2 separate regions of the Homo sapiens genome follow, and region 1 is linked to region 2. Evidence: fine-mapped expression QTL. A gene starts in region 2. The other region holds a variant in brackets. All regions are shown on one strand. Distances are from middle to middle. Region 1 has its middle 85 kb from the start of LINC00566. Region 2 holds the start of PARP4 (poly(ADP-ribose) polymerase family member 4).

Evidence for each region. PIP is the estimated chance that this variant, and not a neighbour inherited with it, causes the effect.
Region 1: its variant is fine-mapped to the expression of PARP4 in whole blood (INTERVAL, PIP above 0.99).

The regions. Positions count from the first base shown.
Region 1 is chr13:24,415,410-24,418,333 of GRCh38, reverse strand. No RefSeq gene overlaps it. Among named protein-coding and RNA genes, the nearest start is that of LINC00566, 85 kb to the right of the region's middle. The variant C/AC (reference allele first, on the strand shown) is at 1,369.
Region 2 is chr13:24,511,320-24,514,243 of GRCh38, reverse strand. It overlaps PARP4 (poly(ADP-ribose) polymerase family member 4), which reads left to right and starts at 1,466. Exons shown (of 34, transcript NM_006437.4): 1 at 1,466-1,538. All of the region lies in intron 1 of LOC105370117 (a long non-coding RNA gene), which reads right to left. RefSeq lists a silencer at 1,309-1,468.

The DNA of each region.
Region 1 (2,924 bases), 96 kb after region 2:
GGAGAATCGCTTGAACCTGGGAGGTGGAGTTTGCACTGAGCCAAGATCATGCCATTGCACTCCAGCCTGGGCAACAAGAGTGAAACTCCATCTCAAAAAAAAGAAAAAAGAAAAGAAATTATGTCCTTTGCAGTATCATGGATGCAGCTGGAAGTCATTATCCTGAGAAAATTAATGCAGAAACAAAAAACCAAATACCATATGCTCTCACTCATAAGTGAAAGCTAAACAATGGGTGCTCATGGATATCAAGGTGGCAATAATGGACCCTGGGGAGTTCTAGAGGGGGCACAGCAGAAAAGGGCACAGGTTGAAAAACTAACTATTGGGTCCTGTGCTCAGTACATGGGTGATGCGATCACTCACACCCCAAACCTCAGCATCACACAATATTACCAATAAACCTGCATATGTACTTCCAAATCTAAAAGTTAAATTATACCAAAAATCTAAGCTCAAAAAGAATAAAAGTCTTTTGCCCATTAAAAAACATAATAAAAGAATACGAATCATCCTATATCAGAAATCTATGTTAATGCAATTTATCATATTCATCAATTAAAGAAGACACACCTTACAATTATCTCAATTAGTGTAGGAAAAAGCATTCACTAAAATTCAGCCTGCACCTGTGACTTTAAAAATTAACAACAACTAGGAAACTTCCTTAACTCAACAAAGAGAATCTACCCAAATACCTACCAGGAACATCATATTAATGACATAATATTGACAGCATTTTCTTCAAAGCCTGGAATTAAACAAAAATGTCCTCTCTTCTTTGCTTCCATTTAACAATATACTACAGAGCCTAAACAGTGTAGAAAGTCAGTATAGTAAGTAAGTCTACAGAATAGCTCCTTAATCTAATGAGAGAGTTTAGGAAGATTTCTAGATGCAGGCTCAACATAAACAAAAAATAATAGCTAAGTCAAGGATGCGGTTGAAATCTTTACAGTAATTACTAAAAACAGAAAATGAGTATATGACTTTGAAGGTAATGATAGAGGGTGAGAAGGAAAGAATTACATTATTAAAATTCAATCAAACAAAAGTAGAACATCAGTAGGAATATAGAAGGGTTAAATAAAATAATTAACAAATAGATGTACATAGAACACTGTTCTCAACAATGCATAATACATGTTCTTTTCAAATGTACAGAAAACATTTGACAGTATTGACCATATTCTGGGCCGTAAAGCAAGTCTAAACAAATTTCAAAGAACTAAAAGAAAAAAATACATAGTATGTTCTGTGTCCACAACACAATATAATCAGAAATCAAAAATTTAAAAACAAAATTCTCATATGTTTGGAAATAAGGAAGTATACTTCTACATAACTCATGGGTCAAAAAAAAAAAAA[C/AC]AAGCACAGTCAAAATTGGAAAATAGTTTGAACTAAGTAAAATAAAAACAATACAAATAAAAATTTATGGAATGAAGCTAAAGCAATTCTTAGAGGAAAACTTGTAGCCTTAAATGGTAAATAGAAAAGAGAGTGGTTGACACTCTAAGAATTATCCATGTCAAGAAGTCAGGAAAAGAACAAATTAACCCAAGGACTACAGAAGAAAATACTAAATATCATAGTAATTGATGAAATAAAAAATAGAGACCACCAGTAAGGCCAAAAATTTGGTACTTTTAAAAGACTAGTAAAATTGATAAATCCCTGGTGAGACTAATCAAAAGAAAAAAGGGGAGAAGGCACCAAGAAAGCAATGTCAGGAATAAAAAAGGGAACACCTCTGTAGACATTAAAATGGTAAAATGATATTGTGAACAATTTGATGTCAAGACATTTGCAAAGTTAGATTAAATGGACAAATGCTGGGAAAACTATAATCTACCAAAATTGGCAAAAGAAATAAAATTATAAAAACATTCTATATATGGAATTGAGCCATAATTTAAAGACTTCTCTCCAGAGAAAACTCTAGGCCAATGTGCGTTCACTGGTGAATTTCACTTTACACTTAAGAAGGAAAAAAATCAGCATGCATAAATTTACCCAGAGAAGAAAAATAGAGAAAATGAAATGTAACTCATTTTATGAAGCCAAAATTTGAAAAAACTGTGAGAAAGGAAAATTATAACCACTCTCCCAGATGACATGAATTTGAAAATCCTAAACAAAATATTAACAAACAGAATCTGGCAATTTAATAATAAAATTATTTAATAATTATTTAACAAAATAATAAAGCACAACTAAATTACATTTATTCCAGGAATATGTTGGTTTACCACTTAATCAATGTAATTAACCACATCATCTCAAAGATTCAGAAAAATCTTTAAAAATTCAACATCCACTCATGATTTAAAAAAAAAAAAACTCTTAGCAAACTAATTTCTTTTTTCTTTTTGTTTGTTTTGTTTTTTGAGACAGAGTTTCACTCTGTCATCCACGCTGGAGAGCACTGTGCAATCTTGGCTCACTGCAACCTCTGCCTCCTGGGTTCAAGTGAATCTCATGCCTCAGCTGGAGTAGCTGGGATTACAGGCATGTGCCACCACACCTGGCAAATTTTTGTATTTTTTAGTAGAGACAGGGTTTCACCATGTTGCCCAGGCTGGTCTCGAACTCCTGGCCTCAAGTGATCTGCCCATCCTGGGCCTCTGAAAGTACTGGGATTACAGGTGTAAGCCATGGTGCCCAGCCAAGAAATTTCTTAATCTGATAAATGGTAGCTCACACACACACACACACACACACACACACACACACACTCGTAAAGCAATTGGGGAGATGTTGAAAGCCTTTCCCTGGAGAATGGAACTATATGTTGATGGCTGCTATTGCCACTTCTAATTCTACACTGTACTGAAGGTTCTAGCCAGTGCTAGGGGAGAGAAATGACTGAAATGGAAAAAATACAATTTACTATTTTTATATGATGTAATCATGTACCATAAAAT
Region 2 (2,924 bases):
ATGATTCCATTCATTCTTTTTATGGCTTCGTAGTATTCCATGGTGCAAATGTACCACATTTTCTTTATCCAGTCCATTGTCGATGAGCACCTAAGTTCATTCCATGTCTTTCCTATTGTGAAGCGTGCTGTGACGAACATACTAGTGCATGTGTCTTTTTGGTAGAATGAGTTCTCTTGTTTTGAATATGTACCCAGTAATGGGATAGCTGGGTTGAATAGCAGTTCTGTTTTCAGCACTTTGAGAAATCTTCAAACTGGTTTCCACAGTGGTTCAACTAATTTACATTCCCACTGACAGTGTATAAGCATTTCCTTTTCAATAAAGCCTTGCCAGCATCTGTTGTTCCTTGACTTTTTAATAATAACCATTCTGACTGGTGTAAGATGGTATCTCATTGCAGTTTTAATTTGCACTTTTCTGATAATTAGTTATGCTGGGCTTTTTTTCATGCTTGTTGACCATTTGCACATCTTCTATTGCATATTCTCTATTTATTGAGACTTTGTTCTCCTGGTTGTTTCTTTCAGTTATTTTTCTATGTTTCCTTTCACTTTTTGTCCATGTTTAAGACAGTTTATTTGAAGTATTTGTCTAATAATTCCTATGTCTGTGCTTCCTCAGCTCAGGGACAATTTCTGTTCATTTCTTTTTTCCTTTGAATTGGCCATTTTTTCGCCTTTTTTTTTGCATGCCTCATAATTTTTTGTTGAAGATTGGACATTTTGAGCATTACGATGTGGTAACTCTAGGAATCAGTCTCTCTCCTCCCCCAGAATCTCTTGTTGTTTCTTAGACAACCCTATAGAGTAGGTTGTAATGATGAAACTTGGTAAATTACCTTGTCCCCAGCCCCCTTGGTAATAAATTGTGGAGTCAGGATTCAACCCCATACCCTTTCCACTGTATTCTCTACTCTATCCTTTCTATTCTCATTTTATTCAGTATCCTAAAAATCTGAATCTTCCCCATTGCTTTATTCCCATTTCAGTGAATCTCAGATCTGTATCTCCAGCCCCCTGCCTCTCTTGAATGGCAGATAAATATATTTCCAACTAGTTACACTGTCACGAATTTCAAACGCAGGAAGGCTTAAAGTAAATTTATTATCTCACTCTCCTGTTTCCACGAACTTTCCCGAAATTTTCTTCTTTCCCGGCCTTGTGAATCCCTTCCATTTCTCAGTTAAAGGACAGCACCATCCACCCACCTCTCTCAAAGCCGAGCTTTGTATTAATCCTCATTGACAAAATCCCTCCTGAAATATGAAACTGAAAGCCCTGAACCCTCCGGCTGATCTTGGAAGAGAAACCCCGCCAGAGGCCGGGGACCCGCTCCCCACCTGGCGGACCCGATTCCGGGCGCGTTCCGGCTATCGTCCCTGCTTGGGACGCTGCGCCCGCCTGGTGCGGGGCGGGGTTCCGGCGCAGTGGCGCCCGCCCAGCCCCGGGGGCAGGGAGAGCCTAGATTACGGAAGTACCGCGAGCAAGGAGCGCGGAATCGGGGAGCGTCCGGAGCTAGCTGGATCCTCTAGGCAGGTGCGTGGGCGCTGCGGGGTGGGGGGCTGCAAAGGTCCCTGTAGTCCTAGCCAGGAAGTGGCCCGCGTACTACTTTCCCGCCAGTGGCTGCACCCTTGCCCTGCGCGGCGTTGGCGCTGTGGGCCTGACGGCGCTGCTAGGCTCGGGAGTGGACTAGCTAGTGCAGCCAGCGCCCTCGGGGAGGGATATTGCGGTCGTTCCGCTCTGCCCCGCGGCGCAGCCCTGGTGACGAGAAACCGGGTGCGGTGGGGGGCGCCCACCGGAGCCGACAGTCACACCAAGTCTCCGCACCCCGTGCGGTGCGGTTCGCAGTAGCACGCGTTGTTTCTTGTTTCCAGTATGCCAAACGGCCTTCTTTCCTAAAGTTAGGTTTCGAATTGTGCAAAAAGTAAGGTGGTTTGGTGAGTAATCAGGAAGTACTATCTGACCTCGTGAGTCATTGGGAACACCGTGATAGAAACAATGTGTTTGTTGAGGTCCAAAGTTGAAAACCTCTAACTCAGTTAAGTAATTCCTGCTAGGAGGGCCGAATGGTTCACCCAGGGATCGAGTTGGTAGATCACAGGTTCTAGAAAACTAAGGCGCTGCTAAATATTCAAGCCCAAGCACTTTCAATTCTGGACTGCTGGATGACAACAATTATATGACAATATCCAAGCATAGTGCTATGATAAAGGGGAAGTTCGCTCTGAGATGTGCGTGTTGCAGACTCATTACATCTGACTTTATCATTTATTAAGTAAACATTAGGTCTTGTTTGTGTGCGTAGAGCTACTGTATATCATGTAGGAGTGAAATAAAAGTAGTACCTTTGTTGTTTAAGGGTTTAATAAACCCATTAGGGAGGTGCATTACTGATGCCATTTGAGTCCAAAATGCAAATAGTGTCAGAAGGCTTTTCTGTAATCCTGGGCTTTAATGGATACGTGAGAGTTTTTAGTAAGCAAGCTTTTATTGAATGCCCACTGTATATCAAAAGTGATCTTAGCGTGTGCTGACTCACACACTTCGGAAGGCGGAGGCTGTAGAATCAAGACTGCCCAGAAAGGGACTCCTCAGGGTTTTCCGAGAGGAGGAAATGCCAGTGGTAAAGACGAAGACCTGTGAAGCAGGAAGCCACTTGATTCCACCTACACCAATGGTTTATGGAGCAGCCAAGAGTTTGTGAGGAGGCGCGCTGAGGGTTTCTTAGGAATCGGGGCTGTTCCCTGCTGTCTTTGGGTGGAAGACACTCTGTGAATGTTATTTGGGGAAGAAGCTGGGAAGGGGGACAGGCTGGAGTGACTGTGCAGATTTGCCTTAGAGAATAACCAGCCCCTAGCCCAGTGTCCGCCACATCTCATATGTACGTAATCAGCGCTGATGAAAACATGAACTAACTCTGTG